3 separate regions of the Homo sapiens genome follow, and all the other regions are linked to region 1. Evidence: fine-mapped expression QTL. A gene starts in region 1. Each other region holds a variant in brackets. All regions are shown on one strand. Distances are between the middles of the regions.

Evidence for each region. PIP is the estimated chance that this variant, and not a neighbour inherited with it, causes the effect. A credible set is the group of variants that fine-mapping cannot tell apart.
Region 2: its variant is the best candidate, but not a certain one, in a credible set for the expression of FAM3C in whole blood (INTERVAL, PIP 0.76).
Region 3: its variant is the best candidate, but not a certain one, in a credible set for the expression of FAM3C in whole blood (INTERVAL, PIP 0.75).

The regions. Positions count from the first base shown.
Region 1 is chr7:121,393,663-121,397,909 of GRCh38, forward strand. It overlaps FAM3C (FAM3 metabolism regulating signaling molecule C), which reads right to left and starts at 2,646. Exons shown (of 10, transcript NM_014888.3): 1 at 2,500-2,646. RefSeq lists enhancers at 1,683-2,268, 2,269-2,853 and silencers at 2,081-2,910, 2,951-3,010.
Region 2 is chr7:121,315,838-121,320,084 of GRCh38, forward strand. No RefSeq gene overlaps it. Among named protein-coding and RNA genes, the nearest start is that of WNT16, 11 kb to the right of the region's middle. The variant T/C (reference allele first, on the strand shown) is at 2,665.
Region 3 is chr7:121,356,762-121,361,008 of GRCh38, forward strand. FAM3C (FAM3 metabolism regulating signaling molecule C) reads right to left here. Exons shown (of 10, transcript NM_014888.3): 8 at 3,282-3,366. Among named protein-coding and RNA genes, the nearest start is that of WNT16, 30 kb to the left of the region's middle. The variant TG/T (reference allele first, on the strand shown) is at 1,821.

The DNA.
Region 1 (4,247 bases):
CAACACTTAATTTCCTCCTCTGAGAGGAAGTCAGCCGATTGTGTCTCAAAGAATTGCATTAAAAGAAAGTACAAAACCTTTTAAAAGTTCAAAGATTTTGGGAAATTACCTGGTTCAGTCTACTCAATCAGATTAAAAAGGACTGCATGATATTAAGTAATTTAGTCAATGCCACTCTTGAAATAACTAAATACAGAATCAATGCTTCAAATCCTGATCATCTGATCCCAAGAACAGAGACGCTTCTGGACTAAATTCAAGACAAACTTTTGCTATTATACCAAGGTCGCACAAAAATCTATCTAGCTCAGCGCTAACATAAAAATCTTTTGCTATTTGGGTCTTGCACCTTTCAGCTTTAAGAAATGGGCATAAAAATAAAAATAAAAAAGATTCCCTGCTTTAGAGAAAATAAAGTAGCTTTGTGAGTGCCCAGGCTGTCTTATTCATAGTATCCATGATATCTACAATTACTGGTACATGGTAGGCACTCCAGTATTTTTAAGAGTATAAAAATTTTTGAAAAATGAATCGTTCAAAACCTAAAATATATGGTGGAAAATATATGAGTCTTCTGATACCCCCTCAGGGAACATTACTTTTTGCCATTCCATAGCCTCTTAGCCTTTTGGCTGTCTTTTCCAATTTCCTTTTCCTTTTTAATGTATCTTCATAAATTATGAAAGATTAGTTGACAATGCTTAAGGCAGCAATCCACATTAAAAATCTGTAATTGTAATAAAACATCCATTAAGTTTATTTTTAAAGTCACTTTAAGCCAGTAGTGTCTTATTTTTACTCCCTTTTGAAACAGAAGCCCCTTACAATGAGGATTTTGAGGAACCTGTCCTGTGTCCCTCTTACAAAGTTCCCATTGGTAATTCAGAGAGGTCCTCAGGTTGAGAACTGCTGGACTGAACTCCTTTTATTGGCTCCAACTCTTCTTATTTCTTCCTATGAAGAAATGCTAGTCTTTATTGAGTTGAGAAAACATTACAAGAATCTGTGAAACAAAGCTTCTAATACCTGTATAAAACTGAAAACCTTGTGACTTTATTGGTAAACAGCCAAGAAACACAAGAGACTACTAGTAGCCTCTAGAAAGAGGTACAGGTCGATGAAGTGACCAAAACCGGATGCTGATTTGCTGATTCTGCCAATTTCTTGTTAAATGGCTTTCAGTAAGTGATTAACTTTTATTTTCTAAATTCAATAGAGATCTGCTGGTACTCTGTAAGATACTGTATGACTAATAGTAACGGTTCCCAAGACTTAAGAAAACGTAACTGCAAATTGGCCACAAGTCCAAGGGGTCGGGGCCTCTGCTATCAGCATTGACCTTTACTCTCGGGAGTTCATATTTCCATCTGTAAAACTAGAAAAGATAAAGGGACTTATTCACTGAGCTGTTGTGAGAATAAATGAGCACACGAAACCATTTGGCAGTGCCTAGTACACAGTAAGCAATCTAATATTATTTATGTCATTGTATCCATATATATATGGATACATACATATATATGGATACATGGATACATACATATATACGGATACATACATATATATGGATACATACATACATATATATGGATACATACATATATATGGATACATACATATATATGGATACATACATATATATGGATACATACATACATATATATATATGGATACATACACCTGGCTAATTTTTTTATTTTTTAGTAGAGACGAGGTTTCACCATGTTGGCCAAAAAGAAACAAAGGAAAAGTCCTATCAATTAGATAGCAGTTCTATATTACAGGCAATAATATTTTTTCTTAAAAAAAAAAAAGGTAGAGGATGATGGAAACCGCTCCTCCCACAAGTAAAACAGCTGGAGCTCTCAATCTCAAATTGCCAATCCGTCACTCACATATTCAGATCTAGGGCCACTAATCATCATCCGTGGTCCCGAGCTGTGAGAGCAGTAGCAAACAAATAGGAAGAAAAAGAAGAGACACCAAACATCAAAGGGCTGGATAGCTTGTAAAAAACCAAAAGTACCTCTAGTATAGGCGACACTAAAACTTTACAAGTGAGTCAAAACGGCCCCCTATGGAGTTGGAATGCAACACCCAACTCCGTCCCCACCTCTCGGAGCTCTCAGCCTACACGCTGCAGGGGCGCGAGCCACAGCCAACCTGGGGAAGATGCGACCCAGGTGCCCGCCCCAGGCCGGGGCGCCGAGTGCCAGCGCCAGGTGCAGACGCCGCCCCGTCTCCGCGGAGCCCGGGGATGCCCACGCCGGGGCGGCGGCCGGGAACCCCGGCCAGCGGCTCTCCGGGACCCCAGTCCCGCCTGCGCCCTCTCCAACGTCCGGACACGCCGTGACAACGCGGCCGGGCCCGGGGCCCGCCCCCGGCCGGTGACCGCAGTGCGCGGAGGCTGAAGTCGTAGGTGGGCGTCTGGCTTCCCCGGCCTCCTCCATCCCTCCCCGAACCTGAGCCCCGGCTCCGTCCGCCTCCCAGCCGTCTCACCGGCCTCCCGCCCGCCTCTCCGCCGCGCGCGCCCGCCTTCCGGCCTCCCAGCGCTCAGTCCTGCCGGAGGCCGACGGGAGCCGCCGCCTCCAGCTCGCGCCTCCGCTTCCTCTCGGACTCCTCCGGCTGCCCCTCACCCCGGCAAGTGGCCAGGAGAAAGCCAGCTCGCCGCTGGGCCTCCTCCCACGCTTCCCGGCCGCGACCAATGGGCCCCCGCCGCCGGGAAGCCGCGCCCGCCCCCTGGCGGTGGAGGACCAAGCGGGCGCCCGGGCCGGCCAGAGGGAAGGGCCGGAGAGCGGAGGGAGGGGTCTGCGGTCCCGCCCACCGCCCCCGGCCAGGCGCTGCACAATCTGAACTTGCCACGTGGGAGCTGCCGCCGCCGCAGCGGCCCTGCGCCGGGTGGCACTACGGGAGGGAGAAAAATGTGTCACCGCCGTCTCCCCACCGTTTACACGCACAAAATCCCAGCCTCAAGGGCAGAACATTTTAAATGACCCACCCATCCTAGAGATGCGCCAGTTAGGTCATCTTATATATCTTGAGATAGCTGAGATGGTCAGATCAACCAAGGACCTTGGGTTATTTGCCGTTTGACTTCTTGAACCCTAGGAAACTGATTCTGAAAATCCTACTGTCCAGCGTCATTAGAATTCTGATCACCTTTAATGCACCACCCAAGAAGAACAGTAGTCCTTGCATTTTCCAAGTCACGTTTATTTTTTAAATTATAAGATACACAATCGTTAGAAATATTTTTTCTCAGGAGATTTCCTACAATTGTGTTGATAATTGGGAAGTTAATCCAAATCTTACTACATAAGACCTTAGAATGCAAAATTATTTCATAATTCAGATCCATATTCTAAAATAATGAATAACTGTTACCTAGTATTTGACAGAATATTGGGATCATCAGTGGTTGCAGAAATTAAATTGCATTTAAAAATAGGGTTTGACTATAGTGTGTTAATATAGAATTAATAATCTACCAAATTTTAGCTTTCCTCCAAAAATATAAAACACACAAACTAATAGTAACTATGAATTCTGGAGTTTGTGATCCGTGATCAGGGGAGAAAGCATGAAATGAATTCTCATTGTCTTCCATGTGCCAATATTATGCTATTTGTGTATTACTTAAATCAAAAAACTAAGACTCCAAAACTGAGTTTAAATATCTTGCTCAAAAATACAAGATAGTAAGTTATGAAGCTGGAATTCCGGCCTAGCTTCATGTAGCTCCAAATAAACAAAAAGGCACTTTGCTTATTATAGTACCAAAAAATCATAACACTTACTGTACACATGCCTCTCCTAGACTGCTATGTCTCACTGAAAGAGTTTATGAAGCCTCTTGAGTAGGGAGGTCACGGTGTATTTCTGAAAGAGCAATCTGCTCTGTAACCGAGCCAACCAGATTGGAAATTACATGTGACATATTCTTATAGCACCACACCTGAAACAATTCCTGTGCATAAAGTTTAATGTGTTAGTAGCCTATTCTCCACTGACCATAAGATATAGCTTAGAACCCTTTGGTAGGTAATGAAATTAATAACAATGGGTCACAACCAACATTTTGTTGCTGTTGATTCACTGAAAAATAGAAAAAAAAAACAGTTCAAAGCATAAATTCAGGATAAGTATTCTTCATGAAACATTTGTACAGCATCATGTGTGGGTGAGTGTCTGTGTGTCTATGTCCTGGATACAGTAGAAATTATATTTCTTAATATGGGTTTCAATTT
Region 2 (4,247 bases), 78 kb before region 1:
ATTGGGGGACCTCCCTTGGGAGATCAATCCCCCGTCCTTCTGCTCTTTGCTCCGTGAGAAAGATCCACCTATGACCTCAGGTCCTCAGACCGACCAGCCCAAGAAACATCTCACCAATTTCAAATCCGGTAAGTGGCCTCTTTTTACTCTCTTCTCCAACTTCCCTCACTATCCCTCAACCTCTTTCTCCTTTCAATCTTGGCGCTACACTTCAATCTCTCCCTTCTCTTAATTTCAATTCCTTCCATTTTCTGGTAGAGACAAAAGAGACACGTTTTATCTGTGGACCCAAAACTCCGGCACCGGTCACGGACTGGGAAGGCAGCCTTCTCTTGGTGTTTAATCATTGCAGGGACACCTCTCTGATTATACACCCACGTTTCAAGGGTGTCAGACCACGCAGGGACGCCTGCCTCAGTCCTTCACCCTTAGCGGCAAGTCCCGCTTTTCTGGGGAAGGGGCAAGTACCCCAACCCCTTCTCTCCTTGTCTCTACCCCTTCCCTGCTTTTCCGGGGACAGGGTAAGTACCCCAACCCCTTCTCTCCTCATCTCTACCCCTTCTCTGCTTTTCCGGGGACAGGGCAAGTACCCCAACCCCTTCTCTCCTTGTCTCTACCCCTTCTCTGCTTGTCTCTACCCCTTCCCTGCTTTTCCGGGGACAGGGCAAGTACCCCAACCCCTTCTCTCCTTGTCTCTACCCCTTCTCTGCTTGTCTCTACCCCTTCTCTGCTTTTCCGGGGACAGGGCAAGTACCCCAACCCCTTCTCTCCTTGTCTCTACCCCTTCTCTGCTTTTCCGGGGACAGGGTAAGTAGCCCAAGCCCTTCTCTCCTTGTCTCTACCCCCTTCTCTGCCTTTCCTGGGGCAGGGGCAAGTACCCCTCAACCCCTTCTCCTTCACCCTTAGCAGCAAGTCCCGCTTTTCTAGGGGACAAGAACCCCCAAACCCCTTCCCTCCGTGTCTCTACGCTCTCTTTTCTCTGGGTTTGCTTCCTTCAGTATGGGCAACCTTCCACCCTCCATTCCTCCTTCTTCTCCCTTAGCCTGTGTGCTCAAGAACTTAAAACCTCTTCAGCTTACACCTGACCTAAAACCTAAATGCCTTATTTTCTTCTGCAATGCCGCTTGACCCCAATACAAACTCGACAGTAGTTCCAAATAGCTGGAAAACGGCACTTTCAATTTTTCCATCCTACAAGATCTAAATAATTCTTGTCATAAAATGGGCAAATGGTCTGAGGTGCCTGACGTCCAGGCATTCTTTTACACATCAGTCCCTTCCTAGTCTCTGTGCCCAGTGCAACTCGTCCCAAATCTTCCTTCTTTCCCTCCCGCCTGTCCCCTCAGTCCCAACCCCAAGCATCGCTGAGTCTTTCTAATCTTCCTTTTCTACAGACCCATCTGACCTCTCCCCTCCTCTCCAGCCCAAGCTAGGTCCCAATTCTTCCTCAGCCTCCGCTCCTCCACCCTGTAATCTTTTGATCGCTTCCCCTCCTCACACCTGGTCTGGCTTACAGTTTCGTTCTGTGACTAGCCCTAGTCCACCTTCCCAGCAATTTATTCTTAAAAAGGTGGCTGGAGCCAAAGGTATAGTCAACATTAATGCTCCTTTTTCTTTATCCCAAATGAGATAGTGTTTAGGCTGTTTTTCATCAAATATAAAAACCCAGCCCAGTTCATTGCTCGTTTGGCAGCAACCCTGAGACTCTTTACAGCCCTAGACCCTAAAAGGTCAAAAGGCCGTCTTATTCTCAAAATACATTTTATTACCCAATCTGCTCCCGACATTAAATAAAACTCCAAAAATTAAATTCCGGCCCTCAAACCCCACAACAGGATTTAATTAACCTCGCCTTCAAGGTGTACAATAATAGAAAAAAGTTGCAATTCCTTGCCTCCACTGTGAGACAAACCCCAGCCACATCTCCAGCACACAAGAACTTCCAAACGCCTGAACCGCAGCAGCCAGGCGTTCCTCCAGAACCTCCTCCCCCAGGAGCTTGCTACAAGTGCCAGAAATCTATCTGACCACCAGGCCAAGGAATGCCTGCAGCCCAGGATTCCTCCTAAGCCGTGTCCCATCTTTGCGGGACCCCACTGGAAATCGGACTGTTCAACTCACCTGGCAGACACTCCCAGAGCCCCTGGAACTCTGGCCCAAGGCTTTCTGACCGACTCCTTCTCGGCTTAGTGGCTGAAGACTGATGCTGCCCGATTGCCTCGGAAGCCCCGTAGACCATCACGGACACCGAGCTTTGGGTAACTCTCACAGTGGAAGGTAAGTCCGTCCCCTTCTTAATCAATACGGAGGCTACCCACTCCACATTACCTTCTTTTCAAGGGCCTGTTTCCCTTGCCTCCATAACTGTTGTGGGTATTGATGGCCAGGCTTCTAAACCTCTTAAAACTCCCCAACTCTGGTGCCAACTTAGACAGTACTCTTTTAAGCACTCCTTTTTAGTTATCCCCACCTGCCCAGTTCCCTTATTAGGCTGAGACACTTTAACTAAATTATCTGCTTCCCTGACTATTCCTGGACTACAGCTATATCTCATTGCCGCCCTTCTTTCCAATCCAAAGCCTCCTTTGCGTCCTCCTCTTGTATCCCCCCACCTTAACCCACAAGTATAAGATACCTCTACTCCCTCCTTGGCGACCGATCATG[T/C]ACCCCTTACCATCTCATTAAAACCTAATCACCCTTACCCCACTCAACGCCAATATCCCATCCCGCAGCACGCTTTAAAAAGATTAAAGCCTGCTACAGCATGGCCTTTTAAAGCCTATAAACTCTCCTTACAATTCCCCCATTTTACCTGTCCTAAAACCAGACAAGCCTTACAAGTTAGTTCAGGATCTGTGCCTTATCAACCAAATTGTTTTGCCTAGCCACTCCATGGTGCCAAACCTATATACTCTCCTATCCTCAATACCTGCCTCTACAACCCATTATTCTGTTCTAGATCTCAAACATGCTTTCTTTACTATTCCTTTGCACCCTTAATCCCAGCCTCTCTTCGCTTTCACTTGGACTGACCCTGACACCCATCAAGCTCAGCAAATTACCTAGGCTGTACTGCCACAAAGCTTCACAGACAGCCCCCATTACTTCAATCAAGCCCAAATTTCTTCCTCATCTGTTACCTATCTCGACATAATTCTCATAAAAACACATGTGCTCTCCCTGCCAATTGGGTCCGACTGATCTCTCAAACTCAAGCACCTTCTACAAAACAACAACTCCTTTCCTTCCTAGGCATGGTTAGCATGGTCAGAATTCTTACACAAGAGCCAGGACCACACCCTGTAGCCTTTCTGTCCAAACAACTTGACCTTACTGTTTTAGCCTAGCCCTCATGTCTGCATGCAGTGGCTGCCACTGCTTTAATACTTTTAGAGGCCCTCAAAATCACAAACTATGCTCAACTCACTCTCTACAGTTCTCATAACTTCCAAAATCTATTTTCTTCCTCATACCTGACGCATATGCTTTCTGCTTCCCGGCTCCTTCAGGTATACTCACTCTTTGTTGAGTCTCCCACAATTACCGTTGTTCCTGGCCCAGACTTCAATCCGGCCTCTCACATTATTCCTGATACCACACCTGACCCCCATTACTGTATCTCTCTGATCCACCTGACATTCACCCCATTTCCCCAAATTTCCTTCTTTCCTGTTCCTCACCCTGATCACGCTTGATTTATTGATGGCGGTTCCACCAGGCCTAATCACCACACACCAGCAAAGGCAGGTTATGCTATAGTACAAGCCACTAACTCGCCTCTTAGAACCTCTCATTTCCTTTCCATTGTGGAAATCTATCCTCAAGGAAATAACTTCTCAGTGTTCCATCTGCTATTCTACTACTCCTCAGGGATTATTCAGGCCCCCCTCCCTTCCCTACACATCAAGCTCGAGGATTTGCCCCGCCCAGGACTGGCAAATTAGCTTTACTCAACATGCCCTGAGTCAGATAACTAAAATACCTCTTAGTCTAGGTAGACACTTTCACTGGATAGGTAGAGGCCTTTCCTATAGGGTCTGAGAAGGCCACCGCAGTCATTTCTTCCCTTCTGTCAGACATAATTCCTCAGTTTAGCCTTCCCACCTCAATACAGTCTGATAACAGGTGAGCCTTTATTAGTAAAATCAGCCAAGCAGTTTTTCAGGCTCTTAGTATTCAGTGAAACCTTTATATCCCTTATGGTCCTCCGTCTTCAAGAAAAGTAGAATGGACTAAAGGTCTTTTAA
Region 3 (4,247 bases), 37 kb before region 1:
AGGAAGAATACAATTGGCAAGTTTAGCTTGCTCATTCAAACCATTATCTCCTTTATAACCAAAGAACAACTTATTTTAGTGAGGGTCGGGGTGGAAAGTAGGTATCATTAGATAACTGTACTCCCTGAAGTGTTAAGTTTTCTTAGATGTAAGTTTTTCTCTATCTTGTTTTTTAAATGGGCTTCACAGAATCAAGAAACACCATGATTAACAAAGGAAAAGATGTTTCTTTAGGGCAGAACTTCAGAGCCTTTCATTGTGAATCCCGAAAAGGGGCAAAATATAAGGTACCATCCTCAAACTTCTTTGACCATTATATGTACTTGTAAAGGACAGGGGTTCTACCAAACACACTCTGGGAAATAATGTGATGGAGATCAGTCCTAGTCAATCTGCTGAAGTTCATAGCACTGCAAAGCAGGCTCATCATGATTAAGAGAAACTAGGATCAGAGACGACGAGAGAGAGAGAGTGAGTGAGTCAGCTGGGTCCTGCTTTCTCTGGTTAACATGCCACCCAACTTTCTCTCTTGGAAAGAGCAGGGACATTCAGTGTACGCACTTAACTTTCTTGAGTATAAGTGGAAGAAAACGAGGTAAAATTCAATGGCCTTAAATAAGGAAAAGCCATAATACATCAGCAGCAGTAAGCAGAATTTCTATTCATATATAAGAGAGGGTATATAACACAACTGGTAAATCACTGCAAATGTGCCACAATTAGACACCTGCCAAGATAAAAGGGTTATATATATATTAGATGTAGATTGCCTTTCTTAAGGATGTTGTCCATTTCAGTATAAAAGATATGATGCTTACAATTTCTTTTACTGGTATTTAGGAAAAGGAAATATTTGAAATATAAATTCGTGTGCCCCAAACTAATACAACTCAATTCATTTAAATTCACAGATGAATCATATATTGACCAAGTGACCAAACGTAAAGAAATTAAAGTTTAGATTTTTCCTTTTGCCCTAGAGGTTGAACTCTCTTCCAAAGCTGCTTTTGGTGCATTTAATGGGCACCAAAAAATAGCAGTTGAAGAGTAAACATCATTCCTCCCCTAGTTCTTAGTTGTGGCTATAATTTATTATTAGCATATTAGCAGGTTAAGGGGAGCAATTTTGATTCCCATCAGGTATAACAAAATAATCTGGTGAAAAACGGAGGTCATGTTTGTCAAGTCAGAAAAGTGGGGCCTTTTCTTTTTAATGTTAAAACTTCAAATTTTACACGTAATAGCCTATTCTCTCAGCAAAAGCAAATAGCAAGTTACCTGTTTTTTGATGAGAGCCTAATTACATCCTGTTTCATTCTATTTAGGTAGATGAAAATGCTTGAATAGGCGAGTTTTATGTTAACCTTCAATTTATGGATTTAATATATTCTTAGTTGAACCAGATAAAACGCACAATGTCAATGAAATTACTTCAGCTTACAACCATTTATAAAGTATCACTGTTTTCATGTAAATCTGTGATAATGTAGCTATAAAATAATACATTTATAAAAATCAATACATAAAAATACAAATTTCTGTATAAATCTTGTAGTATTAAGGCTCTGTCAATTAAAATCTATAAAATCTATAAATCTTGTAGTATTAAAGCTCTGTCAATTAAAATCTATAAAGGATGTTTTTTATCCTTGATAAGTCATCTGAAGAAAAGTCAGAGAAAAAATTATTTTTTTCTAGAAAGAAGAACATTAAAGGGGATTTAATCTCAACCAGAGAGGCATGAAGTACAATTACTTTTATAAAACAATTTTAAAATAATTGAAATAGTGTCTTTTTGGAACAGAGATAAACAGGTCAAG[TG/T]AATGGAACAGAACAGAAATTCCAGAGATAAAGCCAAATCTACATAAGAACATAGGCATTGTGTGTCATGGGGAAATTACAAATGGGTTTTTAAAAATACATGACAACAGTGAAATCACTGGAAGAGAAAATCTACTAAATATCTAACCTGGAGGTGGAAAAATACTTCTCAAGTATACAAGGAGAGTGATAGAAAAATACATAGACTATATAGGCATTAGTCTAAAATTCTAAAATTCAAAAAGCACCCTACACTAACAAAATTAAAAGCAAATAATGTACAATAAATACATTTCTTTTTACATTAGAAATGGTTAATATCCTTAAAACGTGAAGGGGTCTTACAAGTCAAGATAGGCCAACTCGAATGGTCAAAAGACAATTTACATAAAAAGGCAAAAGAAAAAAAAACCACTTGTGAAAAAAATCCAATCTCAATAATAAAGGCATATTAAAATAAGATACCTTTTCAAACTCTTAAAATTGAAACTTAAAAAAATTAACAATTGGTGCCATGGAACTTCTGAGAAAAATATAAAATTGGTAAAAAAATTTTTAAAATCCATTTTTAAAAACATGCACATCCTTTAATTAATCATTTCCACTTTAAAAAAAAGAAGTCTATCTTAAAGACATAGACATGGACTGTTCAAACATTTCTAAGATAGTCTATTGTGCTAAGTATGCAAATTGGAACTAGTCTGGGTCCAGCAATAGGCAACCCATTAAACAGGTTATAAATCATGACATTTTAAAAACCAGACTAGGCAGGCATAAACAATTTTTTATAAAGAATATTTAATAATAAGGGGAAATATTCACCACGTAAGTGAAGAGATATGCTATAAATACTAGCATTCTAAATATTTAATGCCAAAAAATGTGTCTTAAGTCATCTGGAATAGAAACTAAAATATCATCAATGTTTACACTGGGTAGTGAGATGGACTGGAACTTGGTCTCTTTGCGCTTTTCTATAATTTTCCAAATTTTTACAACATATACTATTTTAAGAAAAAGTTATAAAACTACTATATATTAAAATTATTTAAAATATAGCACACCTGTATCTTTGACAATTAACTCCATTTCTTGAAATTTACCCTAATGACATAATAATAGGGAAACTTTAAAGGTGAGCCCATAACTGCTGATGAACCATAAAAATGCTATTGAAGAATATTAATGCTAGGAAAAACAATTTCAGAATGTTAAAAAACAAAACATAAAAGTATAAAAAATGTTACATATGATGTGATTCTAATTTCATGACAATATATGTGTGATAAACATTTACATATAAAACCAGGAAGGAGGCAAAGTAAAAACAAAAATTGTTAGTTGTGTTTACCTGGTAGTTTGATTACTTTGCTCTATGTTACAGATTTTTTTTTAATGAAAATGTATTGCTTTTATAATTACAAATTATAGTTCCAAAAAGTTCTGTAAAGTTTACATACTTGGTTGCTCCATCATCGTATGTTCCCATTAAAACTATTGTTCCATCTTGTATGGCCTTCAGAAACTCAATAAATGGTGCCACATCTGAAGAAAAAGAAAGGGTTTAGGGTTTTAAAAAATGACTGAATAAGCATCACGATAATCTCTGAAAGTAGTATTATAAAACATGAAGTATCTGTAAAGCAATAATTTCCAATGTAAAGTAATCCAAAAGACAGACAAATCTCATAAAGAGTTTAAAAACTGTTAAATTTGTCCCTTAACATAATCCCACTATCAACTTACAATTTCCCATTCCTGATTTATCCTGTGTCTTTCGTATTGATATTCCTGGGGCTAAGTGAAAAAAATCATAGCAAAGTAAAGCATGACTTACGAAGTAAGAAATTCAGAGATCTCTCAGATTTGAATAATTGGGATCCTGAAAACCTTATTCTGGGGTCCATGCATAAGCTTAAGGAGGCATGGGAGGTGTGTGGACTCCTTAAGTGTATGTAAAATTGTATGGGCTGAGCACAGTGACTCACATCTGTAATCCCAGCACCTTGGGAGGTCAGGGCTGGGGGATGGCTTGAGCCCAGGAGCTTGAAACCAGCCTGGGCAATATAGTGAGACCTCATCTCAACAAAAAAATTTAAAAATTAGCCGAGCTTGGTGGCACATGCCTGTAGTCCTAGCTACTCAGGAAGTTGAGGCAGGAGAACTGCTTTGAGGCCAGGAGGTGGAGGTTGCGGTGAGCTGAGATCACACCACTGCACTCTAGCCTGGTTGACACAGCAAGACCCTGTCTCAAAAACAAAACAAAAAAACAAAAACGAAACGAAAAAAAGCATAACAATGTTTGTATGGGTACTTTACTAGAAAGAGGATACACAGCTTTTCTCCGATTCTCAAAGATATCTGTAATTTTTAGAAAATCTAAAAATACATATACACACAGATTTAAAGGCTATTTTAGGTATATC